Linked DNA regions of Homo sapiens: regions 1 and 3 are each linked to region 2. Evidence: fine-mapped expression QTL. A gene starts in region 2. Each other region holds a variant in brackets. All regions are shown on one strand. Distances are from middle to middle.

Region 1 (4,239 bases), 800 kb after region 2:
TAAGATACATATGCAGTATGGTTAAAAGAGAAAATAAAAAACTTTGGTAAAGGAAGGGATATAAATGTATCAGTCACCTTGAAATATCCTTATGATAGCTGTATATCAAATTGACCACTTTTAGGTACCTTCACAGCCAAAACAAAAAGGAAAACAGTTTTGTTCAAATACTTCTCATTGTCTTATTTTCAAAAAATGAAGCCAATTCTAGGACCAGTAAACTATTCCTAGCATTGAATTCTAAAAGGAAAGTATTGTGTTTGTATATTTTTGAGGGACATTATGCATCACCACCAATAATAGCTCTTTAAAATGTGTTTCCAATACATAAATATAAAAGTCATAGGTATAACATATTTACAGGAGCAAAACTAAAAATGCCCAGCTCTATGTGACTTTAATGATTGATTTTACCAGAAATAGATATGTCTTATGTTTTTTCACCGTTTTGGAATTGATTTATCACTACTTCCTGTTATGCTAAAATTTTTCTCTAAACTGTTCAGATAAAACAGTTGTTTTTACATTACTTCAAGTAGTTTTGAGAAAAATTTTGACAAATTGTATAGATGTGTTTTATGATTTGAAACTAATCAAGAAAACAGGATAGAGAAGTTCTAGCATTCTAGACAATGGACAGAACAGACAAGTACAGTAACCAAGTGCAGAAAGATTTCCGTTCCAGCAGATTGTGCTGGCTCACGCCTGTAATCCTAGAACTTTGAGAGGCTGAGGTGGGGGATTTTCTCAAGCCCAGGAGTTCAAGACCACCCTGGGCAACATGGCAAGACCCTGTCTCTGGAAAAAAATAAAAAAAAAGAGCTGGGTGTGTTGCTATATACCTGTGGTCTCCAGCTACTTGGGAGACTGAGGTGGGAGGATCAGTTGAGCACAGGAGTTTGGGGCTACAGTGAGCCTTGTTTGCACCACTGCACTCCAGCCTGGGTGACAGAGCAAAACCCTGTCTCCAAAAAAAATAAAAATAAAAATAAAATAAAAAACGCTTTTTCCACCAGGTGCTAGGAAATGTATGTTTCTCCTCTTAGCATTAACTTATTCAGGTAAAACATATAAAAATCATAAACTAATCAACTAGCATAAAGGAGTATATGGTCAATAGCAAAAGCCTACCTCTCTGCTGTACCACTATTAAGGTTCTTATGAATCTTAGGAATTTGTGATGCAAATGTGAACATAGGTTTATACATATTATAGGGTTTTTTTGAGCAAATATGGTCTTACTATTATACGGTTTTCTTTTTCCCCTTAACAATATATCTTTGACATATTTCCATAATAGTATAAATAGATTCCCTAGCTTTTTTTTTTTTTTTTTTTTTTTTGAGACAGAGTTTCGCACTTGTTGCCCAGGCTGGAGTACAATGGCACGATCTTGGCTCACTGCAACCTCTGCCTCCTGGGTTCAAGCAATTCTCCTCAGCCTCCAAAGTGGCTGGTATTATAGGCACCCACCACCATGCCCAGCTAATTTTTGTATTTTTAGTGCAGATGGGGTTTCACCATGTTGGCTAGGCTGGTCTTGAACTCCTGACCTCAGGAGATCCACCCACCTCGGCCTCCCAAAGTGCTGGAATTTCATTTTAAGTCAGTTAAGGTTTTCTTTGTTCTTGTACTTTAAAAATAGTAGTGTGTATAAGTCTTTAATCCATCTGGCATTTAGTTTTGTGTGAGGATCCACATCA[T/C]ATCCCTTCCCTCCTCCTTTTTTTTTTTTTTTTTACTTCAATGGCAAACAGTTTCCCCACAGCCAATTGTTAAATCACACTTTTCTTTAGTCTTGGAATGTACTTAAAATTACCAGCCAATAAACAATTTTTAAGTGCTTTTTAAATGTACACAACTATGCTAACCACTTAAGACATAAAGATTGATGATGCTTTTGTGCTTAGGAAGACCATAGCTGACAAACGGAGACACAAACAATTTGTAACAATATAGGTGGTTTACATTACAGAGCAACACAACACAATATTGTGGAGTGTTTCTTAGAGGATAACTGGGAATTTGCCAATAAGAGATAGTGGGAGCCTTTCACAAGAAGCAGCATACCCATCAGCATGGGGTATTCAACCCAAGAGAACCAAGGGACAGGATATAGTATCCCAAAAGTCCAAGTATTTGTAGAGTTTCTGTCCTAAGCTGGAAAGGTAGATTTGAATCTACAAATGAACACCTTTGCCTACTTGCTAAAAGCTACAAATATTCTTTTTTTTTTTTTGGAAACTTTAATACCTCATTTTATTTTATTATTTATTTATTTATTTTTATTTTGCTTTAAGTTCTGGGATAAATGTGCAGAACGTGCAGGTTTGTTACATAGGTATACATGTGCCATGGTGGTTTGCCGCCGATATCCTTATGGCCCCAGAAGGCAAGACACATCTGAAAATAAGCCATGGCTACCTGTTGAGGAATCTCACTCTGGCCAGTGGGCACATGATGAGCTGTACTGAGGAGAGGCCTGAGACAGGGCAGTGGTCCAGGAGTCAGCCAAGAGGGGAAGATGCCTGGGTTTGTGAAGACCCAGGGAGGAGCGAGCCCTGGGTGGAGGGTGAGGAGGATCATGAGTTTAGGTGTGAGTGTGCTGAGTTTGAGAATAACACTATGTGCATAATAGAAACACTAAAATGCTAGGTCTTCTTGTGCGTTGATCAGGAAGAGAAAACATCACCCTGGAACATGCAACCTATCTTATCTGCTACCTTCCATGCCCTTCTCTGCAGTCATTGCACCACGGACATCATTGCTGCCATATGTTCCTTCCTCCTGTTGTAATTATTTAAACTCACTACATGCCTAGGGCCTCTCTAAACAGCAAACACCTTGGGACTAGAGAATGAAACACTGTTTATGCATACAGTGTCTGGCCCACCAAAGCCTGACATAGACTAGGGAATTCATAGACATTTATGGAATGAAATGGTAATTAATTTCAGAAACTGGATATCCAGGAGATTAATGGACTGTGTAAGAGTTAGTCAAACCCGCTCAACCATCATAAGAAAGTCTTGATACAGAAAATTGGACTGGAGAGCCTGTGCTTTGCACTCATAACATGGGTATGTGAAAGAATAATTCTGAATTTTTTTTGTCATTCCAGGCTCAATATTCCAGTAGTTGGAAATTAGTAATGCTGAGCTTACCCAACCCACAAGGCCCATATCTTCTGATAACTGGAGTCAGAGGCGTTGCTTCTGCCATCTGTCACCAATATTTTTACATTTCCTGGTGTGTATTTTCCAAGTATAACCAGATCTTGTTGGACACATCCCTGGATTTACATAATCGGGGCAGTGTGGAGAAGGACTGCTCAGGGGTCTAATGCATCCCAGCTTGGCTACCACCAGGCATGTTCCCACACTCTCAATCTCAGTGTGTAAAAATAAGAATAACAATGGTAACTAAACATAGGGCCATGCTAAGGATTCAAGAAGAAAATATATCTTATCAAATGAGATCTTTACTTAGAAAAATAAAGCACATCTTTATGCTTGTGCAGGTAAAATGTAGAAAATACGGAGAAACCAATGAAGAAAACAAACCACCACAAAACCTACAATCCTGAGTTAGCCCAAATACCATATATTTCAATATATAACCTGATATGTTTTGGATCTGTGTCCCTGCCAAATCTCATGTTGACCTGTAATCCCCAGTGTTGGAGATGGGGCCTGGTGGGAGGTGTTTGCATCACGCGGTGGATTCCTCATGAATGGCTTAGTGCTATCCTCTTGGTGATGAGCGAGTTCCTGTGAGATCTGGTTGTTTAAGTGTGTGGGACCTTCCACCCTCACCTCTCTCTCTTGCTTCTATTCTTGCCATGTGAGACTCCAGCTCCCCTTTTGCCTTCTGCCATGATTGTAAGCTCCCTGAGGCTTCAACAGAAACCAAGCAGAAGCTGGCACCATGCTTCCTGTACAAGCCTGCAGAACTGTGAAGCAGTTAACCCTCTGTTATTTATAAATTACCCAGCTTTAGATGTTTCTTTATAGCAATACAAGAACAGATTCATAACCTCTCAAGCTTGATTTTTTCTTAACTAAAATCATGTTTTTATTCAAAATCATAACACAACATCCCTTTGTGTCACTAAATGCAGTTCTGCAATAATGTGTGAATCTTGCTGGATAGTATTCCACTGCATGGTTTCTAGCTTTACTTCTCGTTGTTGGACATCTGCATTATTTACAATCACTCATCTTTGTAAAAAGAGCTATAATA
Region 2 (4,204 bases):
GGTAATCATGATGATTGCTAAAGCCCAAGAATGACGATGTGTATCAGTATTTCTAAGATCACTTTTTGAATACCCCAAAATGCACAATAATGTACGACACTTGGCAAATGACATAACTTTGCCCCGAGAGACAAATGCCTCCAGCAGCTTTAACAGCTGACCAGAGCCAGTGTATGTTTCAGGCATCTTGCCTTTCCATGAATCCAGCATTTCTCAGGGGTGAACAGAGCCAGCCTTGCCGAGCCAGAAAATAACTTCACCCGGGCGTGGAACTCTACAGCTACATAAATTATAAAGGGACTGTTCATCCTGCTAGCCCTAGATGGGGGCCTGCCCAGTGACATCTGTCCAACGTGATCGTTGGGGAGTTGGGGGAATTAGGATGGGGAGAATTCTCCCAGCCTTCAGCTGTGCAAGGCAGGAACTTTATTTCTCATATAACTAGGTGAGGCTGGCTAAGAATGCTTGAAAGAACAGCTGCCAAATCCATTTAAACAACCCCCGCTCCTTTTTTTAAGGGAACAATGTGATGCCCTTACCAGAGTCGCTGTCTGCCTGATACTGATAGTGGCTAAGCCAAGAGGGTAACTCTGCCAAATGTTTGCATTTTTCCTCTTCTGGGGCTCCCCTTAACAACATCTCATTCCCCCCCCCATTTCAGATTAAGAAGGGAGACAGCCCTAGGACTGATTCCAATTCCCTTCCGTGTCATTGAAATTGACTTAGTCCACATTGCCCGCACCCACCACGCACCTGGAAGTTTGTTTGAGGTCGGCGCAGGTGCAGGGGTGGCCCGAGTTGTAAGAATGGTATGGTACTGAAAGTGGCACGCGGAGTTCAAACCTACACTCTGTTGTGGCCGCTGGGTAACCTTAAGAAGTTACTTCTTTTTCAGCTTCAGGTTTTCCAACCGCAGAAGATATCAAAACCCGAATCCACTTTACTTGTTTTTGGACATACCGGGACTAGACATTGCTTTGCAAACCAAAAGGCTGTGCAAAGTCAGTATTTTAAAAGAGAGGTACTATTTCCTACAACGTGCCTGCCCACCTTCCTTGGTCCAAATCCGCCTATATCCCCCCCATCCCCAAGCATCCCTGGGATTGCAGTCCGTGTGCACCCCCGTGCGGGGCGAGGAGAATCTCCTGTGTCCAGGATCTTTCCAACAGCTAAACATCGGTACCGCTCCCCTCAGCTCCGGAAACCTTTAACCCATTTTCACTGAAAGCGCTTTGCAATTTACAAGTACTCTGCACTTAGAGAATCGAGCAAGTAGAGGGCCGGCTGGGGAGGGTCCCTCCGGCGACCGCCTTCACCTTTCCCGGAGCGCCTTCAGTTTCCCCACATATTATCTCCAGTGAGAAGAAAAGCGGAGTCTCCCGCAGCGGCACCCAGCAACCCCCAGGCCCTTCGGCGCCAGTGCGCCGGGTGCTGCACGCAGCGCACCTGGCGCGGGCGGCTCACCTGGAGCTGGCGGCGCTGGCAGCAGGTAGGCGCGCAGGCGGCTGACGGCACTAGCGTTGACGCAGAGCCCGCGGCCGTCCAGCAGCGCCTGCAGCGGTCGCGCCTCGTCGGGCGACGGCTGGCAGCGAAGGCCGGAGCCACAGCGCTCGGTGTAGATGCCGCACGGCTGGCCCTCGCTCAGTGCGCACGTCAGGCAGCAGCCGCAGCCCGGCTCGCGCACCAGCTCCGCGCACACGGCGGGCGGAGGCGCGCACTGGGCCAGTGCACGCGCGTCGCACGGCTCGCAGCGCACCACGGGACCCAAGCCCGCCGAGCTCGCGCCAGCCCGCGCCACCGGCGGCCCGCGGAGCAGCACCAGCAGAGTCAGCGCAGCGGCCCAGAGCGTGGGTCGCGCCCGCTGCATGACGCCTGCAACCGGGGCACGCTGCTTGGCAGGCTGGGCGCGCAGGGATGGGGCGACAGTACACGGCGCGAAGCTGTGGAATCCAGGCAGGAAGCGGCTGATCCTCAGCGCCCAGCCGCAGTGCTCGCATCTGGGCGGCCCGGGCGCGCCGGCCGCTATATAGAAGCCGGGGTGGCCCAGGACACGCCCCGGAACGGCGCGCCCAGGAGTGGGGGTTGGGAGGGGGGCGGGTCGGCGCAGGCACGGCTGCGGGGGCCCGTGCTTCGCCCTGAGCAGCCGGGGCCGAGCTCGGGGGCGTGCAGCTCGAGACTCGCCCGGGCACCTGCTCCTCGTGCGCACGCCCGGAGCCCGGGTCACCTTGTCGTCTACAAGAACCAAGGTGTGCCCGGCCACCCCGGCACTCCAGGCCACCTCAGCACCCCCGGTCACCCCAGTCACTCCTGGCCAACTCAGCACCCCCGATCTCCTTGACCCCGCCGCCCTTACCCCTTCCGCTCTCGGGGTGAGGTCTCCCTGCGGCGAGCCGGTGTCGGGGAAACTGGCATACAGCGCTCCGCATTCGTGTGTACCTCGTGGAGCTTTCTAAAATTTAATTCCGTTGGCAGGCGAAGTCTTGGGACATTTCTGACTTACATTTGGGTCTCAGGGAGCCAAGGCACTGCGGGGTTTAATTTACACCCGCTGGGCTGTTTATATCCCCAGGGGCCCACAAATACGCATCTGAAGATGCGCCCGGGGCCTTCGCCCCTTTCCAGGCTTACTTCTCAACGCAAGAAGACTCTCACGTGTTGCTACACCGCAAGTCTCCAATTAAGAGTGGACCGGCAAGCGAATGCGTCCTTAAGGCAGGGCTTTTCAAATATTTTAAATGACAACTGTTCTTCTTGTCTTGGGTATTCTCCCTGATTATGTTTTCAAATGGAGTTTACACCCATGACAAAAGAATAATAAAGACAATAAACTGGGCACTGCTGAAACGTAATTAACCAAATAGTCCTTTAATAGGCAATTTTCATTGTCATTTTTTGAAGGCGACTTCGTATTACTGTATTCTCGATGCGTTGGGATTCTAGCTTATCTCTGCAATCTAAACACTTTTCAGTAAAGTTCGGGGGCGCAATTGCGCGCTGAGGTCGCTGTAACTCCTGTCGGCCTTCTCTGGCACTCGAGTTTCTTCAGTTTTGTCTGCGCACCCCCTCCCTTCGGTGACCAACAGAGGACGCTGGTGGTCCAGGATTGGATTGAGGATTAAATTTTTCAAGGCACTTTTCCAAAGAGTTTGTGGGGGTGGAGTGGGAAGCGGTGAGACCTCCGCGGGAGGAGACTTTCCTGAACGCTGTTGAAATTGGACGCTTGCCTTAGGAGGTGGATAGGTGACTTGAAGGAGCCCTTTGCAGTTTGGAGTAGTAATAGCAAATCAGGAGCTCCTCCATTCCCCTCCAGCACGAAGCCTTGGGTGAAGTTAATCTTCATTCATCATTTCTGTCTCTCCTAATCGATCTCTCGCCCAGTGTCTCTCCTTGTCCCTCTCCCTCCCTTTCTCTCTCTCGTCCTCTCCCCTTTTCCCCCTGTCCACCTCTTCCCCCATATCTATACAGCTTCCTTTTATACATATATACTCTCCTTTTAGAATGGAAAGATCAATTTCGTTCCCTCTTGTACTAAATAAATAAATAATTGGACCTCTACAAATAAAAAGAGACCAAAGACAAGAACAATGGAGTGCCCCGGGGTGACGAAGGCCCAGCACCGTCATTTTCTTATGAGCTCTTCTCCCACAGTGCTCAGGCTGTGGCTACACTCAACCTTGTTTACAGGAAACCGTGCCATAATCGTCGCTTGCTGTTTCCTTTCTCTTGTATCACCTCCTTCTAGTATCTGCGTTGACACCCAAGAACAGGATCTCTGATTTCATTGGAAAATTGAAGGAAACAAAACGAATCCCCCAGGTTTACATCCGTTCCTTAAATACTCGCAGAGACCTTGACTCTGAAATTAGAGCTGGGTTCGGCATCAAATGCAATTCTTGAGGTCCCAGGTCTGCAGTTCTGGTTAGTGCAATGTTGCAGCAGAGCCTGGACTGACCACTGGTTAGTGTAGCACTTTTTATTCAGCTTTATCATCTGGAGAGTGGACAGGGGAAGATCAGAAACAATGTCTTTTTGGAAAGGATTAAAAAATTTGTTTTATTCTTGGTTCTCTTCTTTTTTCCCTCGCATTGCAGTTGGAGAAACTTGTTCAGTGCCGAATGGCTAGGGGGCGCCAAAGCTCCAGGCGTCCAGCCCGGCCTCAGGGACCACGGGACACACGTAAAGACTAAGTCACATTTCAACTTTC
Region 3 (4,239 bases), 51 kb after region 2:
GTTGGGAGGAGCCCACGTTCAGCAGGGCACATGGCAAAAGGTGGTACTCGTTCAGGTCAGGGCTGGGAGATCAGCAGTATAGAGAGACTGGTGTGGCTGCCCAGGCAGGGGGTGGTTGTGCCTGCCTGGGGCATTGGGAAGGCTGCCGAGACCCAGTGACACTTGGGCCTGGCCTTGAAGGTAACTAGGAGTTTGCAAGCTAGAGAGTGAGGGAGAGGAGAGGTTGGGAAGGATGCGCAGAGGCTGTGTTTTGGACTTGGGGAGAATTGGTTGGGTTGAGGGAATGTCCAGAGAGAGATTTGGCAAGGACACTCGGAGACTGGTGTGTGGGTGGCCTCCTGGGCTGCCTTAGACCCTCATCTTCATGCCCTGCTGCTATGAATTTTTTATTATTGTATTTTGTTTCATTTTGACAGGATATTTTGATAGACTTCTAAAAATGGACAGGACTGTTTTTCTAGCCTTTTGTGATAAAAGTGCCCTTTGTGCTAAAAATTCTAGCCCATGGTGTGTTGCATCTGTAGGTCTCTAGCTTGGCCAGGCCTGCTTCTGTTTGGGGTTTCTAGAGCTGATATTCCTCTGCTGAAGGCTTTATAAGCTCAGATGGCATTTCCTGCCCTGAATCCAAGTCTGCCGCTTAAGAATATGCCATTAAAGGCTCACTGGGTTTGGGTTGGAGTGTGGAATTCTCATTCCACTCAGAATGAGCACGGTTGGGCACAGATTGCAAGACCTCTTTTAGATTTGAAGGTCTCAGCTCTTGCACATGGAAATGACTGAGCTCCTGGTGCTGACCTGAGAGCTGACATTGAGACAGAGGAACTGTGGGCACCATCCACATTCACCTGGATCCTGAGTGTGGCTTCTCTTTTCCTCTGCCCTTCTCAGTTTGAAGTTTTTGAAGCTCTCATTTCTTCCTCCAGTTCTGTTTACTTTGCTTTTTATTTCATTTCCTTTATCCAGTCTGTTTCTCCTATTTCTGTGAGAAACTATCCTAGTTCAATCTCTCATTTGAATTCAGTGAAAGCTGTCTGCCTACAGACTCCACGTCTCTTAAACCTCTGCTCCTTGGAAACTCAGATTTCTTCTTCCCTTCAGAGCTCAGTTTCATCAGCACTTCTGGGAGATTGCAATGTTGTCTGCACAGAAAAATGACCCCTTTATTTCAAGGCACTCCTCTCTACCTTCCAGAAGCACGGTTTTGGGTGTGAGCTGCCAGTTACAGTCCTTAGCATGGTTTGCTAAGGTCTGGGCCTGGGCACATGACCCATCCCAAGCCAAAGGCAATCCTTCCCTGGGACTGCATCTGGAGCTGGCGTGGGGCATATATGTTTCTCTGTGGTCCTAAAGCCGCAAGGTCATCGATTTGGAGATGCTTCCAGCCTTGGGGTGGATGAAAGAACTCCTCCCTCAGAGAGTGAATCCATCACCAACCAGGAGAAACACATAAACAAGAGACGTGGGCCTTCACCTTTATATCTAGGCCCATTCCTTTATTGCTCAGTCCTTCAATTCACCCACTCTTTTTACCTTCTCTCCCCCAAACTTTTGCTACAGCATTGCTCCTTTGTGGTACGCTCTTTGGAAGATTTCTGTTGAAACTAGAATGAAATCTCGACTCTCATGTGGTCAACAGGCCTGGCTCCTGCCTGCCTCCCTCCCTGCTCCCTGGGTGTCCTAGACCCATCTTGCAGCATGTTCCTCCCTCAGGGTCCCTTCCCAGCCCTCTTCAGAGAGGCCTTCCCTGGTATGTCCCTGAGGGAAGTCACCCTCCTCACTCTGAATCATCAGGTCCCAGAGATTTCTTTTTAAAGTACTTACATCATTTTATATCTGTACCTGCCTTTGAAATTTACTTGCTTTGTTCCCTCTTTGTCTGTTCCACAAAGAGTTCAGCACCACGGGGAGCCCAT[C/T]TGTCCAGGACACTGTATCCCTAGCGTTTGGCATGGGTGGGCTCCAGAAACTGCTTGTTGAGTGCACGAATGAGAGTGAGAATACTGGAGAACATCCCCCTGTGGCCAGGGGCTTGTCCCCTAAGCCAGCCAGCTCTGGCTTTCCCAAGGTTACGCTATGTGCACCAATAGCGTCTGGGTGCCATCCTTTCCTGTCTCACTGTGGTGAAATGTGGGTTAAGAAGAATGAATTTCACTGGGTGTGGTGGTTTATGCCTGTAATCTCAGCACTTTGGGAAGCTGAGACAGGTGGATCACTTGAGGTCAGGAGTTCGAGACCAGCCTGGCCAACATGGTGAAACCCCATTTCTACCAAAAATACAAAAATTAGCCAGGTGTGGTGGTGTGCACCTGTAATCTCAGCTACTTGGGAGGCTGAGGCAGGAGAATAACTAGAACCCGGGAGGCAGAGGTTGCAGTAAGCTGAGATCGCACGACTGCACTCCAGCCTGGGTGATAGAGGGAGACTCCGTCTCAAAAAAAAGAAATAAATAAATAAAGAAAAAAGAACAATGAATTTGAGGGGTGTAGTCTTTGGGCTGGGCCCTGAAGGGCACATGGGATTTGGGCCCAAGAGATATTCCCAGCTGGGTGGGGTCTCAGACCTCATAGCCATGTGAAACACCTGAGTCTTAGGAAAGGCCTTTCAGTACACCCCATTCACATTGGCTGCCACTCCCTTCCCCTACCCTCTGATTTATGATCTTTGGCCTCACTTGTTATCTTCCTGATATGAGAAAGCATCTTTTGTTCATTTCCTGCATGGTTGGACCCAAGGTCCGTGAGACCAAAGACAAGGTCCAGCCCAGGATGTGGAACGGCCACAGAGGATGATGGTGACAGCTTGGGGCTGAGGGAAACCGTGGGAACAGAGCACCCACGGTGTGGGCTGGGCTCAGTCCCCAGGCAGGGCGACTGTGCGGCTGGGATGTAGGAATGTCAGGTGCTAGTTGGCTGGGGAGGCACAAGCCCCTGTGGGCAGGGGGAATGCAGGCAGCCCTATGGCTGGTTTATGGGGCCCTGGAGAGCTGTGGAACAAGTGAGGGCGTGGTCAGGCTGCATTTGGGGAAGACAAGTGGAGGGGGAAGACAGAAGCTGGGACAGGGCAGGTGGCTGTTGGTGTCGGTGCAGAACTGGGCAGACACCCCAGGTCACTTGTGACCAAGAGTCTTTTCGGAGGTGAGACCCAGGATGTGGGTGTGAGTGAAGAGGGCTGAGCCAGAGGAAGTAACTCTCCTGTTTTCTGAAGGAGCTGCCTGATTTCCTTTCCACTCGGTGTCTTCCTGCACCTTTCCCATTTCCACCTGCGCTTTTCTCATTCGGAAAAGAGCATAGACGTGGATGCCACCCACAGCAGACGGTCCCGAGGGGCCTTGAGAAACACCAACTGCAGCTTCTGCTGTCCTGGGGCTCCCCCACCCCCAGAAGCTCCCCCACCTCACAGAGTCCTGAGCTAAGCACAGAATATTCTGGAACATTTTCCCTGTACACCCTGGGGGAGTGGACACAGAGCTGGAATTATCACGGTTCATCTCAAAAACGGACACATAGTTTGTATTCTGTTCTGTAATACGTTTTTATTTAAAATAAATGCAATGCTTTACATTTTTACTCTAGAGAAAATTTCATGCTGCAGCATCTCATTTAAACTACACTGCAGCACCTTCGAGTGGGTTCTAGTGTTATTATTACTATGACTAAAACTTCCATTTGACATTGACGTAGATTTTGGGAGACTCAGAAAAGTGAGGGCCTATCAGCACTCACGCCAGAACCGAACCCTTAGGTTGTTGGCCAGGTGGGGATCCTGAGGAGCCAGTTGCTGAGGATCAGGACCTGGGAGGCACCCACTGCACAGTTATTTTATTCATGTGATTCCATCTTCTCAGCAATGCCGTCCACAGGCACCGTGGCTGTCCTTACACCCTCAAGGAGGAACTGGAGACTTAAAGTTGCCGGGATCCTCTAGGGAGGCCTGCCTTGGAGATGGATGGGATGCTGCCGCTTCCACCGGCTGCTTCTCCAGCATCCACTACTGTCTCCTGGGCGTGGGTCTGGCCTTGGAGAACCAACTTGATCCCTTGCCCCCTGTGTCCCCTCTGTGGTCATTTGTTAATTGTGCTTTCCTTTCCCAAAGTCAACAGAACAATGCACAAAGCCCCTTTCATTCTGGAGAGCCTATTTATTTGTTTAGATAGAGCTTCAGAGAGTTGGCAGCCCTCACGCAGCTGCCCGCTGCCCATCCCAGGCAGGAAATGGAAACCCCCACACAATCGGCCTGTTGTGT

Evidence for each region. PIP is the estimated chance that this variant, and not a neighbour inherited with it, causes the effect.
Region 1: its variant is the best candidate, but not a certain one, in a credible set for the expression of IGFBP3 in whole blood (INTERVAL, PIP 0.70).
Region 3: its variant is the best candidate, but not a certain one, in a credible set for the expression of IGFBP3 in whole blood (INTERVAL, PIP 0.82).

The regions. Positions count from the first base shown.
Region 1 is chr7:46,717,899-46,722,137 of GRCh38, forward strand. No RefSeq gene overlaps it. Among named protein-coding and RNA genes, the nearest start is that of SNORD151, 740 kb to the right of the region's middle. The variant T/C (reference allele first, on the strand shown) is at 1,704.
Region 2 is chr7:45,919,274-45,923,477 of GRCh38, forward strand. It overlaps IGFBP3 (insulin like growth factor binding protein 3), which reads right to left and starts at 1,999. Exons shown (of 5, transcript NM_000598.5): 1 at 1,465-1,999. The coding sequence starts at 1,867. RefSeq lists enhancers at 1,802-2,382, 2,383-2,963.
Region 3 is chr7:45,970,039-45,974,277 of GRCh38, forward strand. The region is part of intron 1 of LOC102723446 (a long non-coding RNA gene); the gene reads left to right. Among named protein-coding and RNA genes, the nearest start is that of IGFBP3, 51 kb to the left of the region's middle. The variant C/T (reference allele first, on the strand shown) is at 1,914.